4 linked regions of the Homo sapiens genome follow. The protein of the gene in region 1 binds, or shares a complex with, the protein of each later gene. Each region holds a gene or a part of one and is shown in the gene's direction. Other genes may lie near its edges. The genes, in order: GTF2F2, GTF2H5, POLR2B and GTF2A1.

Region 1 (7,430 bases):
TTTGTTCTTGCTATCGTTATTTTGTATGTCTGGGTTTTCAGACTAAATTTTTTTTTTTTTTGAGACGGAGTCTCACTCTGTCACCCAGGCTAGAGTGCAGTGGCGCGATCTCGGCTCACTGCAAGCTCCGCCTCCCAAGGTTCACACCATTCTCCTGCCTCAGCCTCCCGAGTAGCTGAGACTTCAGGCGCCCGCCACCATGCCCGGCTAATTTTTTGTATTTTTAGTAGAGACAGGGTTTCACCATGTTAGCCAGGATGGTCTTGATCTCCTGACCTCGTGATCTGCCCACCTCGGCCTCCCAAAGTGCTGGGATTACAGGCGTGAGCCACCGCACCTGGCTTACAGACAACATTTTTAAGAGTTTTTGTTTACTACAGATTATGTAGTCAGGATACCTTGAAACTATGCTTCCAGGTGGCTATCCTCAAGCTTTGGGCTCGAATAAACTATATAGTTAATTTTATTTTCTGAATCTCATTACTTAAGATTGACATATGCCTGTCAAGGACAATAACTACCATGGTTTCCAGTGCTTTGATGAAACCAAACGCCATGCATCTGAGGTTTTATGTTGTTGGAGCATTCATTGCATCCCTGGGGGTTGCAGCTCTCTGTAAGTTTGCTGTGCTGAAGCAAGAAATAAGGCATATGCAGATTTCTTCAGAAATTAGGATTCCATGAAAGATATTGAGGAGATGAGGAAGGCTGGTATCTTTCAGAGTGCAAAGTGGTTTGGGAATATAAAGAATTTGCTTGGATTGAATCACATGGAAGTTTGTCACTGACTTGTGTTCGTGAACTATGAAACACGAATATCTAGGCTGAGAAAGAGTTCGTCTTGATAAGTAAACAATTAACAAATATTTCGGACAGGAAGAAAAAAAACAGTTTTTGTTCACTAGGCAAATGTAGAGGTAGGCTGCAGTGCCCCCAGGAACTAAACCAGTGATATACATGTTAACACAGAAAGATAAGCATATATTTTTAGTCTGTTTTTCTAATTTTAAAGAGAAAGCACCAACATTAACTTCAATTTGAGATTGAAGCATGTAAACCAAGATTTTTTTTTTATTTTTTATTTTTTATTTTTATTTTTTTATTTTTTTATTTTTTTGAGACAGAGTCACTCTGTTGCTGAGAGTGGAGTGTAGTGGCACGATCTTGGCTCACTGCAACCTCTGTCTCCTGGCTTCAAGCGATTCTGCTGCCTCAGCCTCCCTAGTAGCTGGAGATACAGGCGTGTGCCACCACGCCCAGCTAATTTTTTTGTATTTTTAGCAGAGACTTGGCCGTGCTGGTCTTGAACTCCTGACCTCAAATGATCCGCCCACTTTGTCCTCCCAAAGTTGCTGGGATTACAGGCGTGAGCCACTGCGCCTGGCCCCATGATTTTTGAAAAATCTGGGTAGAATTCGGTAATTTTCTTACTACTCATTAATGTTACTAATTACAACTTAATCCGACCCTTACTCTTATCCCTAGTGTTGATTTTAAAGTTCTTTTCTAATTTATTAATTTTTACCTTTGATTCAGGTCCTCTTGCATCTGACATGTGACTCTGGGTTGGGACAACTTGATAACAACACTTAAGTTTTCTCTCCACAGCCAACTAGAATGTGCGCCCTCTGTAAAGTAGGTTATCTTACTTTACCAGTGGGCTTATTTGAAAACATTTTTCATGTTAAACTTCCTAGCTTCTCCAATCATTTTACACAAGAAACAGCCTACTGAAGGTGGAAACTGAGTATACCATCACTTCTCTGCTATTTCCTGAATTTAACTTGAGACTGAGGCCAGGCGTGGTGGCTCACGCCTGTAATCCTAGCACTTTGGGAGGCCGAGGCGGGCGGATCACGAGGTTAGGAGTTCGAGACCAGCCTGGCCAACATAGTGAAACCCTGTCTCTACTAAAAATACAAAAATTAGCTGGGCATGGTGGTGCGCACCTGTAATCCCAGCTACTCGGGAGGCTGAGGCAGGAAAATCACTTGAACCCAGGAGGTGGAGGTTGTGGTGAGCCGAGATTGCACCACTGCACTCCAGCCTGGGCAATAGAGTGAGACACCATTTCAAAAAAAAAAAAAAATTGAGACTGGCTGGATTTCAGTCTTCCCTAACAATACAATCTGTGTCATTCATTTGCATTTTTTTTAAGCATGGTGATCTTGTCCTAGGTAGCTCTTTGTCCATTACTGCATTTAAAATGCTCAAGGCCCTCCCCTCTCTAATCATTTTAATCCATTTAAAGCCGTTTTAGAAAGAAAAAGCTGTCTTACTCTCCCCATATCTTAGCGCAATGCCTAGCATATAGTCATGCTTAATCTGCTGAAGCTCAGTGGAGTTTGAGTTTTACTCCCAGTTCGTACATATCAAAAAATGAAGATGATTGAGTCCTTTCCCTTTGTCTCACTCCCAACTTTATTTAATTGAAAAGTAGATACTCAAGGTTTTCAGTTACCTTTTACCACTAATTTGACAGTCTCTCATAAGACATATTTTTAGTTTTAATATCAATAAATCAATAGAAACTAAATTTTATCCTTTTATAACAAATCTTTATTGTTAAAATAGAGTAAGCTAACTACCTGAGGCTATTTGTGGAATAATTTATTTGTAAGTTTTTAAATGTATCCCATTGTTTTCGAAGCTAGTCCCCAGATTATAATTATTCCAGCTGACCCACAGGACATTCTTCTCTGGCAGTTTCCACCCAACCTACTGATGCTTTCTTCACCAGGTTGGCCCCTTCAACAAGTTTCTGATGGTTTATACAAGTGAAGTGTTCCTAAAAAGAAACAAACAAATATCTCAATTAACTAAGTAATAGAACAGAACTTGCATATTTTAAGTAAAAAGGGTGATGTTTTACAATTGAACAGTCCCAGGATGGTAACAGTAGGAGGGAACTTCTTCATTGTGTTAGTGCCACTGCTTTTTAAGCTGGCATGCATGGAGGTACACAAAACTGCAGAATAAACATAACACATGGTCCTGAAGTGTCATTTTTATTTGGATAGTAGATACTGTATTTTTTACTTCATGTTAAAAAATAAAGATGTATTATACAGGTGAATTTAGAGGTCACATGAAGTTTTAAATGGGAATTTCAGAAAAATGGTTTGCTTGTGTCTGAGATGATAAGTATATAATTACCCCTTTCTCTTGTTAAACTAACTTTTATTGTATGGGAAGAGAAACAGGTTCAAGGAGGTTGCACAGGGTCAGGATGAGAAAAGGTCCATGTCCTTTCCTTTTTACCAATGCTTCCCAAACTTTTCACTCCGTAAAGAACCCGTTTTATAATCTGCCTGCCTCCAAGAACCCCACATTTGAAAGATGTTACCTATGAAACTGCATCTGTTAGATAAACTGTTTTACTGTTAATCAAAAACAAAAGCACTACACGTTAGAGTTTTCGATCAACACAAGATAACCAGTTAACCGCACTGAATTGATACAGTTTTGGCAAAAGGCCTTTTTGGGGGGAAATGTACACATTATGCATTACATAAAGCTTTAGGGGATAATGAAAGTGACTGGAATTATTACTAACTTAGAGCCTTAAAGATACGGGGACCCCAGGAGTAACAGGTCCCAGGTTCTGAACTACTGTTCAGAGGCCTGCTGCCTCGAAACTTACGATCTAGTCGTTAATGGATGACTCAAAAGAGAATGCCTGGGCAAGCACGGTGGCTCACACCTGTTATCCCGACACTTTGGGAGGCTGAGGCAGGTGGATCACCTGAGGTCAGGAGTTCCAGGCCAGCCTGGCCAACATGGTGAAACCCCGTCTCTACCAAAAATACAAAAAATTAGCCAGGCGTAGTGGCGGGCACCTGTAATCCCAGCTACTCGGGAGGCTGAGGCAGGAGAATCACTTGAACCCAGGAGGTGGGGGTTGCAGTGAGCTGAGATCATGCCACTGCACTCCAGCCTGGGCAACAAGAGCAAAACTCTGTCTCAAAAAAAAAAAAAAGAGAATGCCTGTGTTTTAGAGTGAGCATGTTGAATTGATGCTTTTATTTCCTTTGCTGTTTGCATATAGATCGAATATGAAAGGAAAAAGAAAGAAGACGGAAAGCGAGCTCGAGCTGATAAACAACATGTTTTAGACATGCTATTTTCAGCCTTTGAGAAACATCAATACTATAATCTTAAGGACTTGGTGGACATCACAAAGCAACCTGTGGTATGTATATGTTCATACTGATCCTTTGAATATGCCCTCCTTCATTAACACGACATTACTGAAAGTGTGTCATACATGATTTAGTTCACATTTACCTATGCTAATGACTAATTTTATGACAACACTCAGAAAAGATGTCTTAATGCAGCCATTTTTGGTAACATCAGCTTTTATTTTACATTTTAGTACTCTTAATAATTATTTATGAAGAAAAGAAATTATCCTCATGTTCATTTATTCTTGACATTAAGCCTGAAATCTGTTGATACCATTTCTGGTCTTTATTTTGTTTCCCTATCTTCCTCTGAGAAAGTTTAACTCCTTCCCTTTTTTTGGAAAACATGCCTCATAGAAAAATCGCATTCTTTAAAGAATTATACTGTTTTGTCATTGTGGGAGGGTTTATCCCTGTCTTGTGAATTGTTTTCTGTGGATTTTTTTTTTTTTTTTTTTTAATTAGAATCTGTGTAGGTCCTTTTAAACCTGAACTGAACTGCACTTTCAAATTATGCTTGCAGAGATTGTGATTAGGTTGGCCTGTTCCCCATTTTTAAGGACAAATTTAACAAATTCGTATTTTAGAAAGTTTATGTTTGTTTTATAGTCATTTTTATCTCTTCTCTAGGCTTTTGTGCATTTACTAGTAATTTGCATTAATAATCCATTTAAAATGATGATAACAATAAGAAATTCAAATTCTTTTTCTAGTCTTTGAGTCACATTGTTTTCCATTTAACTTTCTCCACCACATGTCACCAAAGTATCAGACTGAGTATTTACTTATAGGTTTAAGAAAATTGAATGGAAACCCTTTTATCTCATTTCCTTTACCATTTTGTCTACTCTGCCGGTATACTCAAGAATCTGTTGATTCTTGCTGCTCCATTTATTGGATTCAGAATATGTAACAATAACCAATTTTAAAAAACATCTTAACATAACCAAATAACCTATTTGTGAAAGGACTTGATTTTTTTTATTTATACAAAGCTTTAGGAAATGATTTATGAAATTTTAATGTTCATTATACAGTTTCTCCTGCAGATATTTCTTTACTATTATACATCAACCCTTGCCTTTTGTTAAGAAATTAATTTGAATTCCAAAAGATTTACTTTTTAATAAGAAGAAAGTGCTCATGGTGGAGTATTATCAATTCATCCCAATGACTTCACTCCCTTTGGCATCAAAGCCTTAGAAACAGCATTCTAAGCTAGATTAAAAATTTTTTTTGAAATAGAATAAATAACTCATTAGCTAAGCTGTGTTTCTTCTGGTTTTAATGAAATTTATCTTTGTATTTATATATATAAATATATCTGTATGAAAAGACCCTTCCAGAAACTCTGAAAACAGACGAGATTCTCATGGAATTAAACACAAAAAATTAGATATGGAAAATAATCACTTGTAGAGGGGCATTCAGATGATACTAGGGAAAGCAGTTTCTTTGCCTTCACATGGGATATAAGGTTTATTCATTTTGCATCAAAGAACAAGTATTACTAGTGTGTCTTTTGGTTTTGGTTCTTAAGATATTTTTTATATGGTAGTACTCAGTGAATCTCTTACAACAGAGCTTCTTAATTCCTAACCAGTGGATGGACTTAAGGGGATCCATTAACTTCCTGAAAATCTGCAAAAATGTATGAATTGTTCTGGGGAACATATCATCCATAGTTTGTATCAGATTCTCATAGAAGCCGCTGATCTCAAAACTAACTTTTTAAATAATAGTTTTATTATTTAGAGACTAAATTGCCTCAATAAGCATAAGATTCCTGAAGGCAGAGTTGTATGCTATTCCTATCCCTAAATATTCATATACCCCATAGTGTAAAAGATGGTAAAAATTCAGCAAATATCTCATGAATTGATTTGAAAAAAGAAAATCCTCAGTCTCCAAGGGCCACCATATTTTCTTCAGATGGATTTTGGCAGGCCTCTCACGTCATTTATAGTGAGGTTGGGGCAAAGAGCCAGTGCCAAGAAAGTGTGGAATGCCTTCCCCAGGCTGGGGGTAGGCCAGAGGTAGTTACCTCCTCCTAGAGGAGAGGGCAGGAAGTGGTCAGCATGGATTCCAGTCCATTGACTGGGAAAGAAAGTTGCCAAAGTCTAGCTCTCCCCCAAGTAGGCAACTATCCCCCTTTAAAAGGATTCGAGGACATAAGTGAATCTGTACTAATGGTCATCAGTACCCAAGAGACTTGAGGAATCTATTCTAGCATGAAGATCAATGGTCCAGGAAAGGGGGTGTTCTGGTATAATGGAAAGAACCTGGATTTGGAGTATGAGATCCTAGTTCAAGTCCCAGCTCTACCATTTAGCCAAATAGTCCTGGACAAGGTACTTAAATACATTTAATACATTACTTATATTTAGTTCACTTAACATATGTAATAATATAAAATTTACCAATATGTTCAAATTATAATTTATTTTGGGGGTGGGGTGTTTTGTTTGTTTGTTTTTGAGATGGAGTTTTGCTCTTGTTGCCCAGGCTGGAGTGCAATGGCACAATCTCTGCTCACTGCAACCTCCACCTCCCGAGTTCAAGCGATTCTCCTGCCTCAGCCTCCTGAGTAGCTGGGATTATAGGCGCCCACCACCACACCTGGCTAATTTTTGGATTTTTAGTAGAGATGAGGTTTCACCATGTTGACAAGGCTGGTCTTGAACTCCTGACCTCAGGTGATCTACATGCCTCAGCCTCCCGAAGTGCTGAGATTACACGTGAGCTACCGTTCCTGGCCAAAACCTTCATTTCTATAAGTAAAATTATTGGCTAGAGAAACTTTGCTTAGGGCCCGTCTTTTTCTCTTGTTTGCCAGTATGTGACTTACATAAGCAACTAGAAAGAGTGAAAGTTACTCATCAAGGAGGCCAAGCTTTGGTAACTGATATAAAGTCGGGGACATAGTATCCATTTAAAGATATATTATCTTAGTCTGTTTTTTGTTACTTATAACAGAATACCTGAAGCTGGGCAATTTTTAAAGCAAAATAATTTGTTTCTTAAAATTTTGGAGGCTGAGAAGTCCAGGATCAAAGGGCCACGTCTGGTAAGAGGCTTTTTACATCGCTTAGTGAGGAGGCTGAGCGTGCTAGCTCAGGTCTCTCTTCCTCTCCCTCTTTTTATAAAGCCACCAATTTCACTCCCATGATAACCCATTAATCTATGAATGGGCAGAACCCCCATGACCTAGTCACCTCTCAAAGGCCCAATTCTTACTACTGC
Region 2 (7,430 bases), on another chromosome or scaffold:
AATGGATATTTTAATTTTACAGCACATCTCACAGACTAACCGTGTTTCAAGGACTCTGTAGTGACCTGACTAGTGGGCTACCTTATGCATAGTGCAGATTTGGAGTTTTGATACAGGAGACACCAACAAAGGCAACTAAGAAGAAAATAGCCAGTGAGGCTGGAGGGAGGAAAGCCAAAGGAGGAAGTGTTTTGTAGGGATGAGCGGCTGTGTTGGGCACTGATTGAGAACTGGCATGAGATGAAGACTGGAGTTTTGATGAGAGCCATTTGAATGGAGTGGTGGGGAGATGCCAGATTGAAGTACTGTGGAAAAGGAAAGGGAGGTGAGGAGGTGGAGATGGAGACTTCGGAGAAGTTTTACTGTGATCATGAGCAATCTCATAGAGAACTGGATTGGTAGCTGACGAAGGACATGGTGAGGGGCTCAGGTTCTTGCTATTTTTATTTTAATGTGAAAGACTAGAATGTACGTTGATGAGAGTAAACCACTGCGGGGGAGAGGTATTCACTTGGAAAAGCAAAGGGGGTGGGATCTGGACCCCAGAAGTTCTAAACACACTGTTCTGTTGTCTTTTGAAGGCACTAGGTTTGATGTACTTATTTTCCTATTAATTTGACATAACATAAACATTTTCCTCGTTGGCCTTTAGTGTTATTTTTAAATACAGAGGATACACATACACAGAGTGTCAGCTATCACTTTTTTTCCCTCGTTTCTTCCAATTCTAAGTTTAATCTTCACCCCTGGGTTTGTTAAATATTCACTTCTCTCTTCTGAGGGTTTTGTGTTTTTCTTGGTGTTTTAGATTCATTCATCTAGAATTTATTGGGAGGAGTGGCATAGGTTTGTTAAATATTCACTTCTCTCTTGTGGGGATTTTGTGTTTTTCTTGGTGTGTTAGATTCATTCATCTAGAATTTATTCAGAGAAGAGACATATTATTAGATAAGGATCTAAATTAGCTTCTTTTTTTTTTTTTTGACACGGAGTCTTGCTCTGTTGCCAGGTTGGAGTGCAGTGGCGCGATCTTGGCTCCTGGATTCAAGCGATACTGCTGCCTCAGCTGCCCGAGTAGCTGGGATTACAGGCACACACCACCACACCCGGCTAATTTTATTTTTGTATTTTTAGTAGAAATGGGGTTTCACCATGTTGGCCAGGCTGGTCTCGATCTCTTGACCTCATGATCCACCTGCCCCGGCCTCCCAAAGTGCTGGGATTACAGGCATGAGCCACTGCACCCAGCCTAGCTTCTTTTTTGTTTTGGGTGTTTTTGTCTGTTCATTTTGCCAAATATCTAGTTCTCCACCATTATTTCCTTTCTTAATGATGCTTGATGCCTCCTTAATCACATAATTTTACTCCCCTTGCTATTCTCTTTCATCCCTTCCCACATTCATCTTTCTTGTTGCCTATTCTAGAATAACCTTGAAATAACTTAGTCTGTTTCCAAAATAATCCTTTTGGCATATTGGTTGGAATTGCATTAAACCTACGTTTTAATTTGAAAAAAAAGATGACTGGATTGCATCTTAAAGAACAAAACTCTGGGGAGACTCTGAAGTCTCAGTGCCCGGTTTGCTGTCCCGTATCTAACCTCTGAATTCTACCTGGTCTCTCTAATGACTGTCCATCACCTTGCACTTCAGGGTAATCCCCAGACTAGCAGTAATAGCATCATCTGGAGCTTGTTAGAAATGCAAAATCTCAGACCTCACCCTAAATCTACTAAATCAGAATTGTGCATACAAAGAATCTTGTTAAGATGCATTTAAATTTTGAGAAGCAATAATACTGTTAATCAGCTTCAGTTTAATAATGTTTCCCTGTGGAGAAGTGTTTTGCACCAGGACTATTAAATTTTATTTTGCAGGTTAGGTACCATCCTTGCAAAACTAATTTTTCCCTTTGAAGTGAATTCTAAAGTGTAGTCTGCACAATTTTTCAAAAGGGTAACTCTGTCTTCCCAAAAACACAAGTCTTCCAAAAAGATTTTGGGCCTAAGAAATAACATAGATTCCCAAAGGAAAGGGTATGGCCAGTGCTAGTGGATTCCCTTTCACAGTTAGATGCAGATGTTAGGATGGTAACTGGAAAAGTCCTTCAGTTTCCCTCATGTCCATATTTGATGCCAAGGAGAAGCCTGTTAATAATATGATTATCAGTATAAGTCTGTTTATTACTTCATAATATCCATGGATTGTATGAAGCATTTAGGTGTATTGGAGTATGGAATTTGATAGGTCTGGAGTTTACAGGCAGACCACTCAAGGATCTTCTACAGCTGTTGCAGGTGAATACCAAAATTGAGGCTCAGCCCTGGAAGCCAAGTTGGTTTTTGGCTTCATGCAGGAAAGAATTCAAGAATGAGCCACAGAGTAAAGTGAAAGCAAGTTTATTAAAAATGAGGGAATAAAAGGGTGGCTACCCCATAGGCAGAGTGGAGTGGGGAGGGTGGGAAGCAGGCGGGCCTGCTAACTGGCTATTTTATGGCCATTTCTTGAGTATATGTTAAACAAGGGGTGGATTATTCGTGAGTTTTCTGGAAAAGAGGCAGGGATTCTGTGGAACCAGGAGTCCCCAGTCCAGACCATACGGGGTAACTTCTAGATATTGCCATGGCATTTGTAAACTGTCGTGGTGCTGGTGGGGGTGGTTTTTAGCGTGCGCATGCATTATGATTTGTGTATGATAGTGGTGAAGGTTGCTTTTGTTGCCATCTTGGTTCTGGCTGGTTTCTTTACTGTATCCTCGCTTATCGGTGGGGTCTTCTGACCTGTTGTTTACTGTCTCTCTTGTCTTGGAAACTAGTCCTGCTGAATTCCTATCTCACAGCTGCTTCCACTGTCCCAGGAATCTCTCCAAATTCCAGTCCCATCATTGTATTAATAGAAACTGATGTGTAATAGCTTATATAGTGCTGATCCACATATATCTTAGATTGGCTTCACTTAACTGCCATATTTAAACTCCATTTCTATCAGTTAAGTTTAACTGATTTTGAGTCTGCAGAGATTTGCTAAAGAAGTAAACCAAATTATGATGATGGCCATTTATTCTCACCTTCAGAGAATTGAAAAATCAGGGCACTTGGATATAATCTTAACTCCCAAGGGCTTATCAAATACTAAAATTGAAGGCTATAAAAGAAGTTTTATGTTTATAAATTTGCACTTTTATGTCAAAACTGAAAGGTTGGTGAAAATTTCCTCTTTGTTGGGATCCACCATCAATTGCCAGGCTCACACTAAGTATTCTCCCAAATCTAGCCACCAAGCAATTACCAAAGCAAGCAACACATGACCACAGTATGTCTGTGTCCAGTTCCAGATGCTGGAGCAGACCTCTGGTATAACAGTTGCCACAATTGGTTTGGCAAGTGCTTCAGCAAAGATTTGTTGCCAAGGTGCAAATTCCAACCAGTTTACATCACAATAGCAAAGAATCTGGAGAAATATGTATTATTAAACTACACTTATCCTTATGAGTTTGGCTTCTAAAGCTATATCGTTTATGAGAAGCGAAGTAAGAAGTATGGCAAAACCAGTCTAACCATTGTTCTGTTTTTTTCTCAGCATGTATAAATCTTTTCTCAGCCTTTGCCTCTTAGTAGGGCCATGTTCGCTGAAGTTTTCCAGGCACCCAAAACTGTGCCTGAGATGTGTGTGTGTGTGTGTGTGTGTGTGTGTGTGTGTATACACACACACACACATACACATATATAGATATGGCTTAGTAAATATTTGTGTACTGAATAAATTTTGTTAACAGAATTGAGTCCAGGTTTGTGATCTCAGCCAAAATCCCAAATTTATTAATGTTCCTTTAGAGCCTCTCTATTCCTACAGTGAGATTCACAGTGAATAAGATGGGATTCTTGATAAATTAAAGTTTTAGTTTGAAACAGATGTGTATACTAGGCCTCCTTTTAGCATGTTGTATATCAAAATAGCTTTTAAATGAGGAGGCTGTTGTCTTCCAGTCATAGCTTTTAAAAAGCAAGCACCCCACCAAGCTGCTGATGGAAGTGTAATCCCAAGAAACAACTGTAAGCAACTTGTGATGGGTGTTTTGTGCTTTTATATCCTTTAACACAATAACTCCGTTTCTATAAGTTTATCTTTAGGAAATCGCTGGGTGCAGTGGCTCACGCCTGTAATCCCAACACTTCAGGAGGCTGAGGCGGGTGGATGGCTTGAGGTCAGGAGTTTGAGACCAGCCTGGCCAACATGGTAAAACCCTGTCTCTACTAAAAATACAAAAATTAGCTGGGCATGGTGGTGGACGCCTGTAATCCCAGCTACTGGGGAGGCTGAGGCAGGAGAATCACTTGAACCCAAGAGGCAGAGGTTGCAGTGAGCCAAGATCATGCCACTGCACTCCAGCCTGAGCAACACAGTGAGACCCCATTTCAAAAAAAAAAAAAATTTTAGGAAATGATCAGAACTGCCAATAAAAATGTATGTATTTAATGTGCTAGAAAAAGAAATTTGTTGATTGTGGCATATTTTAATCAAATAATATAGCTGTTAAAATATTTGCAGACATTTTAAGTGATTCAGGGAAATGACACTGTACAATGATGTTAAGTGAAAACACCTGGATTCCTGTACTAACGCTGTTTTCCATGTGACATGTGCTATACTAAGCACTTGCTAATATTAATTTAGTTTTCACAACAGCCCTTTGAGGTAAGTGCTGTCATCTCCATTTATGGATGTACAAAGTGAGATACTTTGTATCAATTAATCAATTGCTCAGTTACATAGCTATTGTTAAACTGGGATTTTAAATCCCGGTATTCTGGCTCCAGAGCCCAGGCTACTAAACGTTACATATACTATCTCTCCATTATAAAACTAAGTATAATATTGTGTTTGCTTTTGTTTTTTTTTTGAAACGGAGTCTCACTGTCACCCAGCCTGGAGTGCAGTGGCACAATCTTGGCTCACTGCAGCCTCTGCCACCTGGGTTCAAACGATTCTCCTGCTTCAGCCTCCCAAGTAGTTGGGATTACAGGTGCCTGCCACCATGCCTGGCTAATTTTTGAAGTTTTAGTAGAGATGGGGTTTCACTATCTTGGCCAGGCTGGTCTTGAACTCCTGACCTCGTGATCCACCCACCTCGGCCTCCCAAAATGCTGGGATTACAGATGTGAGCCATTGCGCCCAGCCTATGTTTGCTTTTTAAAAGGATATACGTATGTCTTAGAATTATACCATATATATTCATAGGTTAATGGTTTTGTAATTGAAATAGTAAATTGCCGAGACCAGCTCGGTCTGGGAGACCCTAACCCAGCAGCGCTAGAGGAATTAAAGACAGACACACAGAAATATAGAGGTGTGGGGTGAGAAATCAGGGGTCTCACAGCCTTCAGAGCCGAGAGCCCCGAACAGAGATTTACCCACTTATTTGTTAACAGCAAGCCAGGGATGAGCATTGTTTCTATAGATTATAGATTATAGATTACCTAAAAGTATTCCTTATGGGAAACAAAGGGATGGGCCAAAATAAAGGGATGGGTTGGGCTAGTTATCTGCAGCAGGAGCATGTCCTTAAGGCACAGATCACTCACGCTATTGTTTGTGGTTTAAGAAAGCCTTTAAGCGGTTTTCCGCCCTGGGTGGGCCAGGTGTTCCTTGCCCTCATTCCAGTAAACCCACAGCCTTCCAGCGTGGGTGTCATGGCCATCATGAACATGTCACAGTGCTTCAGAGATTTTGTTTATGGCTAGTTTTGGGGCCAGTTTATGGCCAGATTTTGGGGTGCCTGTTCCCAACAGTAAATCATTTGATAGGGATAGAACTAATTGTAATTTAAACCTCTCTGCCTATATCCTCTCACATGGTCTTGGCATTTTAATTGCTCATTTGAGTACCTACTATGAGCAAGATGTTTTAGAAATATTCTGTAGTCCATCAACTTTGCAGTGTAGCTATGGTACTAACATTGCTGTTACAGATCACAGGCTCTTTGGCTCCCTATGTAATAAAAATTAACACAGAGCTATACAGTTTTCCCAGATGAGGCTTTTATTTCAGGGTTTATCCACAAATGCAAGGGAGACAGTACAGTAGTAAGAACTCTGCGGCTGACCCCCAAAAAAGCTGATGGGGACTTTTTGATTAGGCAAAGCATGGGAATTGACATCAGGGATAAGGTATGCAGGCTGCGCTGGGTAAAGCACATGAAGGGTACAGTATGTGGTCAGCATCTGTGGTTGCAGTGGTTATCATACTTTAAGTTCTGGGTTAAATGTGCAGAACGTACAGTTTTGTTACATAGGTATACATGTGCCATGGTAGTTTGCTGCACCCATCTACCCGTCACCTACACTAGGTATTTCTCCTAATGTTATCCCTCCCCTAGACCCCAACACCCCACAGGCCCTGGTGTGTGATGATCGCCTCCCTGTGTCCATGTGTTCTCATTGTTCACCTCCCACTTATGAGCGAGAACATGCAGTGTTTGGTTTTCTGATCTTGTGATAGTTTGCTGAAAATGATGGTTTCCAGCTTCATCCATGTCCCTACAAAGGACATGAACTCATCCTTTTTTATGACTGCATAGTATTCCGTGGTGTATATGTGCCACATTTTCTTAATCCAGTCTATCATTGATGGACATTTGGGTTGGTTCCAAGTCTTAGCTATTGTGAATAGTGCCACAATAAACATACATGTGCATGTGTCTTTATCATAGAATGATTTATAATCCTCTGGGAATATGCCCAGTAATGGGATTGCTGGGTCAAATGGTATTTCTAGTTCTAGATCCTTAAGGAATCGCCACGCTGTCTTCCACAATGGTTGAACTCCCACCAACATTGTAAAAGCATTCCTGGCTGGGCGCGGTGGCTCACACCTGTAATCCCTGTAATCCCAGCACTTTGGGAGGCCAAGACAGGCGGATCACGAGGTCAGGAGATCGAGACCATCCTGTCTAACACGGTGAAACCCCGTCTCTATTAAAATTAGCCAGGCATGGTGGCTACTCAGGAGGCTGAGGCAGGAGAATGGCATGAACCCAGGAGGTGGAGCTTGCAGTGAGCCAAGATTGTGCCACTGCACTCCAGCCTGGGAGACAGAGCGAGACTCCATCTCAAAAAAAAAAAAAAAAAAAAAGCATTCCTATTTTTCCACAACCTCTCCAGCATCTGTTGTTTCCTGACTTTTTAATGATCGCAATTCTAACTGGTGTGAGATGGTATCTCATTGTGGTTTTGATTTGCATTACTCTAATGACCAGTGATGATGAGCATTTTTTTATATATCTGTTGGCTGCATAGATGTCGTCTTTTGAGAAGTGTCTGTTCATATCCTTTGCCCATTTTCTGATGGGGTTGTTTGCTTTTTTCTTGTAAATTTGTTTAAGTTCTTTGTAGATTCTGGATATTAGCCCTTTGTCAGACAGGTAGATTGCAA
Region 3 (8,040 bases), on another chromosome or scaffold:
TTTACAAAAGGGAATAAGGGGGAAGAAAATGAACATTTTTGAGGATCTACACTGTGTTGGTTACTGTAATAAAATATAAAATTACTGCCACTTTACAAATGAGGAAATAGGTTAAGAGATTAGTTCACAGGGGAAACCAGAATTGGAATCCAAAATCTGTAGGCCCGATTTCTTTCCATTTTTATCACATTACCATTCAGTATAAAAGTAATTTTTCTGTAAAATTCAAAGTGCAAGACAGAGAAGAGCAGCTTACTAAATGAAACTTTGGTTTCAAGGGAACAAATGGGGCAGTCAGTTTTGTCAACTTAAATTTAAGCCTGGCTGAGCGTAGTGGCTCACACCTGTAATCCCAGCACTTTGGGAGGCCCAGGCGGGTGGATCACTTGAGGTCAGGAGTTCGAGACCTGCCTTGCCAACATGGTGAAACCCTGTCTCTACTAAAAATACAAAAAATTAGCTGGGTGTGGTGGTGCACACTTGTAGTCCAGCTATTTGGGAGGCTGAGGCAGGAGAATCGCTTGAACCTGGGAGGTGAGGGTTGCCGTGAGGCGAGATCGCACCACTGCACTCCAACCTGGGCGACAGAGTGAGCCTCTGTCTCAAAAAAAAAAAAAAAAATTTAAACCATAGAAGGACTCATTTTCTAATTACAGAAGTTTGTTTCTTTCTTTCTTGTTTTTGAGACAGCGTCTTGCTCTGTTGCCCAGGCTGGAGTGCAGTGGTGTGATCTTGGCTCAGCCTCCCAGGTTCAAGCGATTCTTCACCCTCAGCCTCCTGAGTAGCTGGGATTACAGGCACCAGCTACCAAACCCGGCTAAGTTTTGTATTTTTAGTAGACATGGGAGTTTCACCATGTGGGCAGGTCTGGTCTGGAACTCCTGACCTCAGGTGATCTGCCCACCTTGGCCTCCCAAAGTGCTCGGATTACAGGTGTGACCCACTGCACCTGGCCACAGAAGTTTCTTAAAGTCACAAGACTGATACTTCTGTTTTTTTGGGTCTCTGTTGTCCAGGCTGGATTGGAGTGCAGTGGCCCAATTAGGGCTCACTGCCACCTCAACCTTCCAGGCTCAGGTGATTCTCCCACCTCAACCTCCTGAGTAGCTGGGACTACAGGCACGCACCACCAGCCTGACTAATTTTTGTATCTTTAGTAGAGACAGGGTTTCACCATGTTGCCCAGGCTGGTCCTGAACTCCTGAGCTCAAGCAATCTGCCCACCTTGGCCTCCCAAAGTGCTAGAATTACAGATGTGAGCCACTGAGCCCGGCAAAGCCACACATCAAATTGCACTAATGGGCTGGGAGCAGTGGCTCACACCTGTAATCCCAGCACTTTGGGAGGACGAGGTGGGCAGATCACGTGAGGTCAGGAGTTGGAGACCTGCCTGGCCAACATGTTGAAACCCTGTCTCTACCAAAGATACAAAAATTAGCTGGGCATGGTGGTGCTTGCCTGTAATCCCAGCGCTTTGGGAGGCCAAGAGTTCCAGACCAGCCTGGCCAACAAGGTGAAACCCCATCTCTACTGAAAATACAAAAATTAGGCCAAGCGCGGTGGCTCACACCTGTAATCCCAGCACTTTGGGATGCTGAGGCGGGCGGATCACGAGGTCAGGGGTTTGAGACCAGCCTGACCAACATAGTGAAACCCCGTCTCTACTAAAAATATAAAAATTAGCTGGGCATAGTGGCGTGCGCCTGTAATCCCAGCTACTCAGGAGGCTGAGGGAGGAGAATCACTGGAACCCGGGAGGCGGAGGTTACAGTGAGCCACTGCACTCTAGCCTGGGCAACAGAGCAAGACAAGACTCCGTCTCAAAAAACAAAACAAAACAAACACAAAAATTAGCTTGGTGTGGTGGCGCATGCCTCGAATCCCAGCTACTAGGGAGGCTGAGGCAGGAGAATCACTTGAACCCGGGAGGCGGAGGTTGCAGTGAGCCGAGATCACGCCACTGCACTCCAGCCTGGGCGACAGAGTGAGACTCTGTCTCCAAAACAAAACAAACAAACAAAACACAAAGTTCATTAGGTTCAGACAGTAAAAAGGACGCACACTTTCTGGAACAATATACAAAGAAGTTACAAAGCAAATCTCCAGAACAGGAACTTTGCTTTGTTCCCTGGTCTATCTCCAGTGCTTAGTGACTGGGAACAGAGACGTGCTCCATAAACACTTCCATTGAAAATTACTACAACACATCCTCAATTTTCCCTAGCAGTAAGCTGACACAGAAGAGAGGTGTGACCAGAGTGGGGAGAGAATTTGTAAAGGGAAGGGTACAGGCAGCCCGCAGTGGACATTAAGGGAGGATGTACTCGGTGCCTCGGCCAGGACCAGACGTCCACCTTGCCAGGAAACGAAGAGGGCGAGCCTCCTAAAACTCACCTGGCCAAGGGGAGATGGTGGCTCTGTCGATGGCCTCGGAGCCCTTGGCAGTGCAGTAATCGGACTCCAGGAGCGTGTTAAAGAGAGTGGATTTGCCGGCGTTGGTGGCGCCCACTAAGTAGACGTCCCCACGGTAGCGCCAGGAGCGCTGAAGGGCAGAGATCAACTCTTCCACTCCATAGCCGGTCTTGGCGCTGATCAGCCGCACGTCCCTGACCACTGTGCGGGACCAGTTCGGCGGATTCGGATTCTCCCCGTCCTGTGGCTCGTCCTTGACGGGGCGCTGTGGCCCTTGGTGGCCAGGGGCCAGCAGGAGCCCGGCGCGGGCACAGTCCTCCCACAGTCGCTCCCGCAGCCTCTGCCGGTAGCCAGGAGCATCCTGGGGCAGGAGGTCCACTTTGTTTCCCAGCACGATCAGCTGCTTGGGGCCCACCAGCGCGGGCAAGTCGGGCAGCAGGGCGTCGGGCAGGTCCAGCAGGTCCACCATGTAGAGCACCAGGGAGGGGCCGGGCCGCCGCAACGCGGCGCTCACCAGCTCCAGGTACTGCTCGCGGCTCACCTGCAGGCGTAGAGCGCGCCGGTGGTGCGACAGCAGCCAGCAGCGCTGGCACACGGTCCGTGCCAGCCCGCCGTCTGCCTCCGCCGTGCGGAGGAACTTCTCTCGGGGCAGGTAGCCGGGCACTCCGGCGTCCTGGCAGTGCAGCTCTGCCCCACAGCCCGAGCAGTTCACGCCGCTGGGCGGCAATGCCGGGTCCGGGTGCCCCACGACCGGGTGCTCCCGGGACCTGGCCCGTAGGTTTTGCTGTCGCCGCTCCTCCCGCCGCTGCTGCCTCTGTCGCTCCTCCTCCTCCTGCTGTTGCTGGAGCTCCTGCAGCTGCTTTTCGCGGGTGGGTTGCGGCTCCGGATCCAGGATGTACTCCGGGAACAGAAAACGCTCCTGCATGTCACCACCTTCTCCAAAGCCCTCCGTGTCCACGGGGTCATAAGGAAGCTCGCGTCCCAGACTCGATGAGTGCTGGAAGGAGGAGGCGGCAGCGCACCTCCTCTCCAGGAGCGGCTCCCGGAGGCCATGGCGCGCTGCCGTGGGAGCGGATCCACGAAGGAAAAGGCTCAGCAGCCTGAACGGTAGGCGAGCGGGCAGCATGAGGAAGTAGCTCCAAAGGGGCGGAGCCACCAGCGCGCACGCGCACTAGGGTCCGAGGCGCGCATTTGACCCGAGACGAAAGCGCGTGGGTACTTGGGAGCTGTCCTGGTTGGTTTTGCGTCTAATCCCGTCAGTTCTCGCGATTTAAGCTCTGAGACTGAGAACCTACTTAAAGCTATGGCAAAGGCACTGGAGGATTGAGCTAGGTGGGCAGAAAAGAGCAGTGAGTGTTTTGGGTTTTTTCACTTTCAGGCTTAACGCCTCACTGCTAGCACAAGCCGCCCTTAATAAATCACACTTAAAAAGGAGCTTCCGGGGTCGGGCGCGGTGGCTCACGCCTGTAATCCCAGCAATTTGGGAGGCCGAGGCGGGCGGATCATGAGGTCAGGAGATCGAGACCATCCTGGCTTACACGGTGAAACCCCCATCTCTGCTAAAAATACAAAAAATTAGCCAGGCGTGGTGGCGGGCGCCTGTAGTCCCAGCTACTCGGGAGGCTGAGGCAGGAGAATGGCTTGAACGCGGGAGGCGGAGGTTGCAGTGAGCCGAGATCGCGCCACTGCACTCCAGCCTGGGCGACAGAGCGAGCCTGTCTCAAAAAAACAAAACAAAACAAAAACAGAAAGGAGCTTCCGGCCGGGCGCGTGGCTCACGCCTGTAATCCCAGCACTTTGGGAGGCCGAGGCGGGTGGATCACCTGAGGTCAGCAGTTCGAGACCAGCCTGGCCAACGTGGTGAAACCCCGTCTCTACTAAAAATACAAAAATTACCCGGGCGTGGTGACCCTTGCCTGTAATCCCAGCTATTTGGGAGGCCGAGGCAGGAGAATCGCTTGAACCCGGGAGACGGAGGTTGCAGTGAGCCGAGATCGCTCCACTGCACTCCAGCCTGGGCGACAGAGCGAGACTCCATTTCAAAAAATAATAAATAAATAAAAATAAAAAATAGCTTCGTGTTTTGGTCCTTATAAAGGCAAATAAATTGAGCATCCCAATGTTGCGGATTCACAGGACGAACACTTTTTAATAATAAGTATACCTGGTTTTGTTTTCAGGTGTCGTTATTTGTGCAACAACATTGAAAAACAAGCAGAAATAAAACATTGACGGAACGGATACGACCGCAGATTGCGGGAGCTGTCCTCTCAATCAGCCCGGCAGCGGCGGCCCACAATTTACGCGTGTGCAACCCTAACCCCGGCCCAAGCTTGACCTACAATTTGCGCAGGCGCAGATCCTAACTTTGGCGTCCCTGTGGGCGGCCTTTGGTGTGAGACGCGTGGTATTCTGGGAACGTCGGAGACGGAAGTTACTTCGTCTTTAGCTCCTGGCGCTGCTGGCTTCTGGGCGGTTTTTGTCTTTTGATTTCAAGAGTTAGGAGCTCGAGAACCGTTTGGCAATATGTACGACGCGGATGAGGGTAGGTGAACGCTCAAAACACACGCCGTGGCGGTCCATTTAAGCAGGAAAGCGTTGGGAACTGATTGGATTGAGGATTTGGGGCCTTCCCATGCGCCGGCTGCACAGTCCCCAGCCTTGTTCCCACACTTACCAGGCCGGGAACGAAACTGGGGTAGGGAGAGGCGGAGGGTGCAGGGAACATAGTGTTAATGTTCCAGGTTACGTTCACTGCTGCTCTCTGCACTTTCTCGTTCCGTTAGATCTGATCCTCGTTTCCTGTGGTGAAGTAGCGTGCAGAATCGTAAGATAAATTACGTTTTGAATTTGAAGCAAAGGGCACCCTTTAAAAATTTTCCTTAAAGCCACAGTCGACTTAACGAATAGCTCAATTGTTGAGTGTCAGCCTGTGTCAGGCAGTGTGGAAGGTCCTGGAAATATTCCGGGACAGAGAATATCGGGGGGTGGGGGTGGCGGGGGGGACTCGGTTTAGTCTGACATTTCTTCATACTGTTTGTAAGTCAAAGTAAATTGTCTTAAAGGATGACTTTTAACTTCCTCTTCTCACAATGTCACAGTTCTCAGATGATATGTATTCTGCTGCACTGGGCCAATGTATAATACCTGTTTGTTTGCGCATATGGAATTCTTAGTAGTGGCCGAGCGCGGTGGCTCCCGTCAGCACTTTGGGAGGCCGAGATGTGCAGATCGCTTGAGACCAACCTGACAAACATGGGGAAATCCTGTATCTACTAAAAATACAAAAATTAGCCTAGTGTGATGGCGTGCGCCTGTAATCCCAGCTACTCGGGAGGCTGAGGCCGGACGATCGCTTGAGCCCAGGAGGCGGAGTTTGCAGTGAGCTGAGATCGCACCACTACACCACAGCCTGAGTGACAGAGTTAGACTGTCTCAAAAAAAAAAAAAAAAAATTCTTAGTTGAGTCTAGTGTATTTTCGTAGCCGCCTTTTCCATTCTCCATATCTGCTAATTCAAACCTTATTTTCTTATAGCTCTCAATTCCTTGGCCACCCCCTACATCTCCTCTCTCTATTCCCTCAGGTACTTCTGATAAATCAGATGGAAAAAATTGAAGCAAAAGCTTAATTTTTTTTTTTTTTTTTTAAGAGATGGGGTCTGGCCATGTTGCCCAGGCTGGTCTCAAACTCCTGAGGTCAAACCATCTGCCTGTCTCGGCCTCCCAAAGTGCTGGGATTACAAGCATGAGCCAATGTGCCCAGCCAAAAGCTTAAACTTTTAAAGCTGTTTAAACTTCTGTCTCATTTATATCTTGTGTTGTAGAAATTTATTAGCATCATTATATTCCTTGTTCTTTTTTAACTACTATCTCAGTAGAAGAAAAATTCGAAAAAAAAGATTTTTAAAGCATAATTTTTGGCTGGGTAATATATTCTCATAGCTCACAAGCCAGAAAATTTAAAAATGTTAAAGTGGGGTGGCTGGTGCAGTGGCTCACGCCTGTTATCCCAGCATTTTGGGAGTCTGAGGCGGGTGGATTACTTGAGCTCAGGAGTTCGAGAGCAGCCTGGGCAACATGGGAGACCCCTCTCTATAAGAAATAGAAAAATTAGCTGGGCGTGGTCTTGCTCACCTATAGTCCCAGCTACTTGTGGGGCTGAGGCTGGAGGATCGCTTGAGCCTGGGAAGTTGACACTGCTATGAGCTGAGAACAAAGTGAGACCTTGTCTCAAAAAAAACAAGTTAAAGTGTCACGTCTCCTTCTTACCCACCATCTGCCCAGTTTGAACTCTCCACAGTGGGTAACTACAGTTATAACAGTTATAAGAGGTTCTTATCACTCCACAGTTTCTTTTTTTTTTTTTGATGGTCTTGCTCTGTTGCCCAGGCTTGAGTGTGGTGGCGCAATCTCGGCTCACTGTAACCTCCATCTCCCAGGTTCAAGCAGTTCTCCTGCCTCAGCCTCCCGAGTAGCTGAGATTACAGGCGTACACCACCGTGCCCAGCTAATTTTAGTATTTTTAGTAGAGATGGTTTCTCCACGTTGGCCAGGCTGATCTCAAACTCCTGACCTCAGGTGATTCACCTGCCTCGGCCTCCGAAAGTGCTGGGATTGCAGGTGTGAACCTCCAAGCCCAGCCTCCACAGTTTCCTTATGCATATTTAAGCAAATATAAATGGGATTTTCTCTTTTTTTAAAGACAGTAATATTCACACTTTTCTCCACTTTTAGATTTTGTTTAATGTGTCCAGGAGATTTTCGTATCAGTACACAGAAAGCATCGCGCCCCCCCTCCCGTGTCCCCACCCCCAGTTACTTAGTTTGTGTGGATGTACCATAACTTAAGTAGTCTCTTGATGGATATTCGGTTTATTTCTAGTCATTTTCGGGTTCAAACAGTGCTGTAAATGAATAATCTTGTACGTATAATTTGCCCAAGTATGTCTGTGGGATACATTTCTACATATAAAATTGTCAGGTCAAATGATATGCACGTTTAACATTTTGCTAGATGATGCCAAGTGACCACCATAGTGGTGATTGTACTAATTTTGCATTCTTATTAGCAATGTATAATGATCCTGTGGAAAAAGAGTTTATCAGGGTTGCTTTAGCAGTGAACCTACATTTTATTGCCCATGTCCTCTGAAATGTTTATTAGATAACGTCCTCATCAGTTTTCAGTCACTATGTGAAAATGTCAGATTTCTGTCATCCACATGGAAACAAGTTAAATTCTTTTCATTGTTACCTTTTTCTTCTAGTATTTTACCTTTCTTCTTTCACTCACAGCCAAACTTATAAAAATAATAAGCTGTCCTTGTTTCTAATTTTCATCTTTCATGTGCTTTTCAACTGATTACAATATGTTTCTACTCATGCTACTACATTAAGATAGCTCTAAGATTGACAGCGACTTCTCAATTGATAAATGAGATGGATATTTAAAACTTATCTAAACCCTGTGGTCTTCAAAACTGTTGATGACATCTTCCCGGAAACTCACTCAGCTTTCTAGCGACATCACTTTCACTTGATTTTTCTTATCTGACTTTTCTCATTTTCTTTCCTGTTCACATTCTCCTTGGGTGATCTCATCCATTTTCCATTGTTTCAGTTACCAT
Region 4 (7,430 bases), on another chromosome or scaffold:
CACCATCACCATCATCAGCAAGCTCAGCCTCAGCAGACAGTACCTCAGCAAGCGCAGACCCAGCAGGTTCTTATTCCTGCATCACAGCAAGGTGAGACTGGACTTGTTTTCCTACTTATGACTTGGAAATTAAGTTTGTCATTATGAAAGAAGAGAAATATTCTGCATTTTTTGGATCTTGTCTTTTAAGGGGCACATGGAGAACCTAAAAATAAACAAAAACCCCTCTGTTGATTTCGGGCTTTTTCCCCCCTTTCTCTTGGCTGAGGGATGTGTATGTAAATGTATATAAATTTGTATACAATGTAGGTTGTATCTGTAGAGTAATGGTAGACAAGTAATTTACTAATTGAAAGCCTAAGATATTCAGAGAAGTTATATTAATATTTTGTTTTGAAAAGGCTATATAGTGATGGATTTCCTAAGTTAAATCTAAAAGGTTTATTTACTAAGGGATTTATTATTTTATATGGTACAATAGTTATTTGCTTTCTCTATAAAACATGTTCTTTCAAAGACATGTTTCAGATTAGTTTTTAAAATATATCTTACATTCTGGAGTTTTTTGTATACTTTGGCAATCTGAAAATTCAGCTCCATAGGAATTTATGTAAGCCTAAATGGACTGAATTAGATTTATTTTAAGTTAAGAGTGGATATATAACATATCTTAATTTATATTACTTGGATTAAAGCTAAGAAAAAGCAAATATTCATAGACTGTGTCCATAGTGCCTTGTACTCTGCAAGTCATTTTATAGATACTGTTTCACTGGCATCTTATAAGGGCTTTGTAAAATAGCCCTTGGCTCAGTTTTACAGCTGAGGAAAATCTGAGCCCAGAAAAGGCTAAGAAACTTGATCTGTATTTTCTCTCATGACAAACATCTATTCAGTTATAAAACTTCCTGAGCATTCTAATTCAGTGCATCTGCTTTTATGGGAGAGGACACTAGAAGTAAATGAAAAGTTCATTTTAATATCATTTAGTTACTCATTTGCCTCATTTGACAGTATATATATGTGTCTTAAAATTGGTAATGACACACAGTAGAAGAGTATTTGGGTTATTTTACTGTTGATATCTAGTGGTACTTTTCATACCTAATTTTAATGTGTACTTTGTATCAAATAATTTTATCCTTTTATTCTTTTTTGATGACTGTTCTTCCTGTTGCCTTCAGACCTGGCATTAGGATTTTAGGTCATCATAAATTAAAATTTGATTTTCTTCACTCAGAGAATATTAGGATAATGGAGTTATCTGTTCTCTGAAATTTGCGGAATCAAACATGTAATTCCTTTTACGCTTAAGTAACATTGCCATTATTTCTGATTTGTATTTTTTCCGACTTTTGCCGGTTTACCACTCTTCAGGCAACCTGGTGGTCCCCTGCTTTCAGGAGGCCACCATATTGATGCCGAACTTATTTGGACACCTGATCAGCATAGCACATACAGCCCAGAACTCCTGGGCTCAAGTGATCCTCCCACCTTAGCCTCCTGAGTTGCTGGGACTACAGGCATGCATCCCTGCACCCGGCTGATTTGTATTTTTTAAACAGCTGATGAAAGTGGCATGAGTCTGTCAGCTGTCATATTTGGAAGAAAAGGACTATGTAGATTTCAAAAACTAGTCACAACTTTTTGAGCTTACTTTTATTGGATTAGTAACTCATTGTAACAGTGGTATCATTGTATCAGTAAAACAGTTAACCTTGAGTTAAGACAAAATTATGTTTGAAAATGTCCAGTTTACTTAAGAATGCATAGAACTATTTATGTTTAGATGTTAAGGTAACTCACTACTTCATGTTCCTAAATTCCCTTGCATCCTTAGGAATTGCCACTTAATTTTTTTTTTTTGATATGGAACCTTGTCACCCATGTTAGAGTGCAGTGGCGTGATCTCAGCTTACTGCAACCTCCAGTTCCGGAGTTCAAGTGATTCTCATGCCTCAGCCTGACACCCAACTAATTTTTTTGTATTTTTAGTAGAGATGGGGTTTCACCATATTGGCCAGTCTGGTCTTGAACTCCTGACCTCAAGTGATCCACCCGCCTTGGCCTCCCAAAGTGCTGTAATTACAGGTGTGAGCCACCACGCCTGGGCTTAAATATTTTTTAATGTTTTCTAGTATAGGGTGGGTATATCACAGCTGTTATTTGCCATATACATTTATAATGTCCTGAGATGAAATGATTGAAAGCATTTGAGTGCAGAAAACATGAAAAACATGAAAAAAGTTTTCATCATTGTATGTAAAGTGTTCTTGTGATTATAAAATAGCCTCATGGTTCCTTGTTTGCATGTTCGCTTGTTTTTTTGTAGCCACAGCACCACAAGTTATTGTTCCAGATTCTAAGTTGATACAGCATATGAATGCATCAAACATGGTAAGACTCAGAATGTAGCAGTTTGATTGGCTGTACTTAATTCTAACCCACATTGTAATTATGCCTATATATGTCCTATATTAACTACTTGAAGTTTATTGAAGACTCAAGCAAAACAGCTGTTTTAGTTTCCTGAATATTGGATCTGAAGTTTAGCTTGGTACCTAGACATTAAGGTTCATAAAATTACGGAATTGTTTAAGAATACCAAAAGAATGGTGCTTTGTGAGAGTTATTCCATTCCCTACTATTTCCGAAAAAGTTTTAGGGTACCTACCAAGCTTATAATGCCAAGTATGGTTCTGTTTCAGGAGACCTAGTAATTGCAAGAGGGTGGGAAGGCTAAGAATTGTGAACTTTTAAAAAATGAAGATAGACTGGATAGTTCAGTATAACTATTTTTAAAATCAAGCATTTAAAAATATTACTCTGACTTAACCATAGTATAGTCTAATAAGTCATTATAGTGTGTAAATTACCACAGAATACATTTTAACCAGCTGAGTTATATTAGAATTTTTATATTTCTGAGGACTATCCACTAAACTTTACAAGTCCTCACTCATATTTTCAAATTACATTTCAGACATATAATATTTCTCAACAAATGTAGTATAGGTTAACTGTAAACTTGAAAGAACCTCTTCAGATCCTTAGAAAATCTTTACCTATATCCTTGAAGTTGTTTTTTGTTTTTTTTTTTTTTTTGGATAAAACATTAAAATATAGTCAGATTAGAGTAGTTCAATACTTCCTTATAAATGGTTTTTCTTTATTCTGTTTAAAATATACAGACTGTTGATTTCATTGAGTGGTGACTCAGCTCTTACATTTCATTCTTCAGCCAAAACTTTTATTTAAAGGTGAAAGAATCAATATTTGTAAAAAGATCTTTTAACCTATGTAACTAGTTAGTACTAGAAATGAGATTTTTTTTTCCCTCCGTTCAAGTTTTTTTTTTTTTTTGAAGATGGAGTCTTACCCTGTCACCCAGGCTGGAGTGCAGTGGTGTGATCTTGGCTAACTGCAACCTCCGCCTCCTAGGTTCAAGTGATCCTCCCACCTCAGCCTCCTGAGTAGCTGGGAGTACAGGTGTATGTCACCACACCTGGCTAATTTTTTTGTACTTTTAGTAGAGACAGGGTTTCACCATGTTGGCCAGGCTGGTCGCCCAACTCCTCACCTCAAGCGATCTGCCCACCTCGGCCTCCTGAAGTGTTAGGATTACAGGTGTGAGCCACCACGCCCAGCCTCAAGTTTTTTTTTAAACCAAAAAGCAGTGTATGAAAAGATGAGTTCTACTTTGTGAGTGATACTGAATCACAAAGTTCATTTGTGGTTTATAAGCCAGATAAGAAGGGCTTACCCACTAGACAGATGACTTCCTCCTACACATTACCAGCCTCACAAATTCATACTGTGGCAGAATTGAAAGTTTCTACATGATAGTAGAAATTGCAGTTTTTAAATTCACAAATATCGAGGATCTCTGTTTGTACTTGTAGTTGCAGTTTCTAGAATCTTTTCGTTTACATGAAAATAAAAAATTTCATGCCTGTTATTTCTCACAAGATTTTTTATTGGAAAAAACTCCATTTTAAGTCTAAGGCCCCAATTTTTTTTAACCTCCACCCTTAAAAAAAAAAAAGTCTCACTATATGTTGCTTATTGTAGTTGATGTTATTAAGACTATATCCTAGGGAATAACTCACATTATTTTAAAACAAATTTTGGCAGAGTCTCTTGTGGTAGGCCCCTCTAAAAGAATTTTAAATGTTGTGGAAGAGAATTTTGAATTAGTAAGTTATTTCTGGGATAAAAATTAGTGGTCCATCTCTTACTTACTGGTTAAGTCTCCTTTATTCTAAAGAGCATATGTATTTAAACAAATCATAGGTCAGTTACTCAGGAAAATTGATTTAACATTTCTGTATATTTTACATTTTACTTTGTTGTTTTTAGTCAGTGTTTCCTTCATGTATTTCTGAACATAATCAGTATAGGCTCTGTACCAATAAAAGTGTTTTAGGTTTTTGTGGGTTTGCATTATTCTGATTTAGAAATAGCAAAAATATATTTGTTCTTTCTAATGGCTCTGTTTGCATTAGAAATGAACTAATCATAAAAACGTGAGATAATATAGTAGAAGGCTATTTCAGGGAACTTCTAGAAAACCATTGTTTTCGGTTCTTTTTTATGAAATGATTGGTCTAATGCATTATTTGTGTTTGGGCTGTTTTGTGGAATACAAGAAGAAATTTTAATAGTTATTAAGTATAAGGTGGTTAGTGTATGGTACATGACTCAGCAAATATATGTTATGCAGCTTGAATTTGTGGAGGGTGTGCAGGTAGTTATTGGGTCGTGTATTCTATATGGAAACTACTATGTCAGTTTGCTGGTAGAGGGAGAATTGCTGTCTTTCAAAATATGAATTATAGGCACTTAATATTTCTAAATATTTTTGTTTTTTTCTTTTTAAATATTTCTTAATAGTATGTGGTGGTTAATATTTTCCTTAAACTTAGATAACCTTTAATTTGCTTATATAGCCAAGTTTTATTTTAAATTGGGTAATTGAGTATCCAACTTAAATACGAATCACCCGGGTGGGCTATAGTTAAATTCTGGAGACACAGTGGGAATTTCAGGCCCAAGATGTAGAAATTACTTAGGTTTGTCAAGTGGCAACAAGTGTATTTTCTTGGAAAGCTATGTACCTAGAGCCCAGACTAGACAGTAGTTGAACTATTAACTCAGTTTAATAATTTTCTAAGTTTGTTGACTTCTCTGACACTAGCATTTCCAAAGCAGTTATATTTATTTTTTTAAGCTTTTTCAGATATGGGTAGTTCTAAAACTGTATAGGTTAGATTGAATGTATGAATGGTTGGTAGCTAAAGAAGATTGAAAAGAGAGGGAAAAAACTACCAAAATGTGTAGCTATAGCGGGATACAGGAAAATACTTAAAGTGCAGAATAAAAAACCAGAGAATGGCATAATTCTTTGCGGGAGGACAGGAGGAGAAAACTCTCCAGAACTCTCCAGGAAGTCAAGAATTTGTCCTGGATTTAAAGAAATTCATAATATAATCCCGTCTATATCTTTATAACTTAAGTGTCACATACTAACTTGATTTCAAAATGTTGAAACTAAAGTTTGTGACTATTGCCCAGGCTGGAGTGCAGTGGCACAATCTCGGCTCACTGCAACCTCCACCTTCAGGTTCAAGCCATCCTCCCACCTCACCCTCCCAAGTAGCTGGGACTACAGGTGTGCACCACCCTGCTCAGCTAATTTTTGTATTTTTTGTAGAAATGGGATTTCACCATATTGCCCAGGCTGGTCTCAAACTCCTGAGCTCAAGCGATCTGCCCACGTGGGCCTCCTAAAGTGCTGGGATTACAGGCGTGAGCCAGTCTGCCTGGTGTGACTTTTCTTAAGATTTACAGATTTTTTGTATTAATCTGTTATTAATGCATGTTTCACCTAGAATATAATGCCAGTATGTCCCTTTTTTCTTTGCTAATATGACATCTTAGAAGAATTGTCAGCTGTACTCCCAGTGAAGTCTTCTGATACAGTGTTCTTTATAGATATCTGTTGATTTTAGTAGAAATTTTAAAAGTTAAGAATTCTAAAAAGTAGATAATTATACTTTTATCTCAAGGAAATGGGGATAAGGAAACAGTGGGAAAGGAAGCAATAATGAAATAGCCATTTCATATATTGTACAGCATTGTTAATGTGGGTATTGTCTAAAAATGTGTAGGTTAGATTGAGTATAGGAAGGCTTGGTACCTTAAAGAAGATTGATGGGACAAGAAGGAAAAAAAAACTGCAGTACCTGTGAGATTTACTTAGAGCACCTTCTCTAGGGGAAAAAACCCAATTATATTGTTGTATTTAACTGCTTAAAATAATTTAGTAGGTTGGAGGCTAGGTTGGTCAGTCTTGTACCATTTTATAAAATGGGATTTAGCCTTACTAGATTTTTTAAATTTTGGTATATTCTAAACAAAAAGTTTCATACACTATTAAAATATGCTAGAGAGAAACAGTATTATACATGTATGTGGTTTTGATATTTTTTCTTTGTTTTTTTCAGAGTGCTGCTGCTACAGCTGCTACCTTAGCACTCCCTGCAGGTGTGACTCCTGTTCAGCAGATATTAACAAATTCAGGTAATTAGGAATGATGGAACCATTTTAAAATGTAATTCAGAAAATTGTACTATCTAGCCCTTAGGTTTTGTCTTCTTTGAAAGACAGAAAATACTAATATTTCTTTTACCATTTGGTTTAGGTTATTAAAATAACTTTATTTGAGGGCTGTAACACATATAACTGTAATCGTTGTTGAGGATACAGTAAAGAAGATGAAAATTGTACTTGAACCTTTGATCTGTGCATGATAACCCTATTATTGAAGTATGATTATATAAAAATGCTTACTTAGTTTTTTACTGAACACATTTAACATGCCAAGTGAGTATTAAACTTCTTTGAACTTGTGATATCAAAGTAATTCCTAGAGCATATTAAGAGCAAATTTATTGTATGCTATTATTATACATAGTATCTCTTCATTGACAAAAGACCAATGTCTAGCTCATGTGTTTTGGCATATTGGTGCTTGAAAAATTTATTTACATGGATTTTAAGTGTTCCCTATAATCTTGATTATATAGTTATTATTTATTTTCTATTCTGTGTATGTTATTTTTGTTAATTTGTAAATTTGTGAAATTAGGGGCTTGTCTTGCTACATATTTTAATAAGATGTAATTTGCTTTTTAATCAATTCAAGATTCTGGGTTGTCTAAAGGAACATATTGGGGGAATTTGATTCTGTGTGAATTGTATGACAATGATGATAACTGGTTCTGTGAACTTTTATTGCTTTTACCAATTTTGAAGCAAAGTTCTTTGGTGCTTTGTTTGGTTCAAGATATTAAATGAGCTATTAAGCTTTTGTTCCTTTAAAGCTTTAAAAATGAACAGCTCCCGAAGTGTCTGATCTTACTGCTCTT

Evidence for each region.
Region 2: GTF2F2 (region 1) and GTF2H5 share a complex: the UniProt entries of both Homo sapiens proteins name them as parts of the TBP-based Pol II pre-initiation complex.
Region 3: GTF2F2 (region 1) and POLR2B share a complex: the UniProt entries of both Homo sapiens proteins name them as parts of the TBP-based Pol II pre-initiation complex.
Region 4: GTF2F2 (region 1) and GTF2A1 share a complex: the UniProt entries of both Homo sapiens proteins name them as parts of the TBP-based Pol II pre-initiation complex.

Annotation. Positions count from the first base shown.
Region 1 is NC_000013.11:45,263,185-45,270,614, forward strand, and holds part of GTF2F2 (general transcription factor IIF subunit 2), read left to right. Parts: intron 1-4,048; coding exon 4,049-4,192; intron 4,193-7,430. UniProt on the Homo sapiens protein: TFIIF is a general transcription initiation factor that binds to RNA polymerase II and helps to recruit it to the initiation complex in collaboration with TFIIB.
Region 2 is NC_000006.12:158,171,348-158,178,777, forward strand, and holds part of GTF2H5 (general transcription factor IIH subunit 5), read left to right. Parts: intron 1-7,430. UniProt on the Homo sapiens protein: Component of the general transcription and DNA repair factor IIH (TFIIH) core complex, which is involved in general and transcription-coupled nucleotide excision repair (NER) of damaged DNA and, when complexed to CAK, in RNA transcription by RNA polymerase II.
Region 3 is NC_000004.12:56,974,048-56,982,087, forward strand, and holds the start of POLR2B (DNA-directed RNA polymerase II subunit RPB2), read left to right. Parts: upstream 1-4,848; 5' UTR 4,849-4,938; coding exon 4,939-4,957; intron 4,958-8,040. Other genes in the region: NOA1 (nitric oxide-associated protein 1), read right to left, coding at 2,395-3,538. UniProt on the Homo sapiens protein: Catalytic core component of RNA polymerase II (Pol II), a DNA-dependent RNA polymerase which synthesizes mRNA precursors and many functional non-coding RNAs using the four ribonucleoside triphosphates as substrates.
Region 4 is NC_000014.9:81,196,561-81,203,990, reverse strand, and holds part of GTF2A1 (transcription initiation factor IIA subunit 1), read left to right. Parts: coding exon 1-91; intron 92-1,156; exon of another isoform or gene 1,157-1,296; intron 1,297-2,332; coding exon 2,333-2,397; intron 2,398-6,506; coding exon 6,507-6,582; intron 6,583-7,430. UniProt on the Homo sapiens protein: TFIIA is a component of the transcription machinery of RNA polymerase II and plays an important role in transcriptional activation. TFIIA in a complex with TBP mediates transcriptional activity.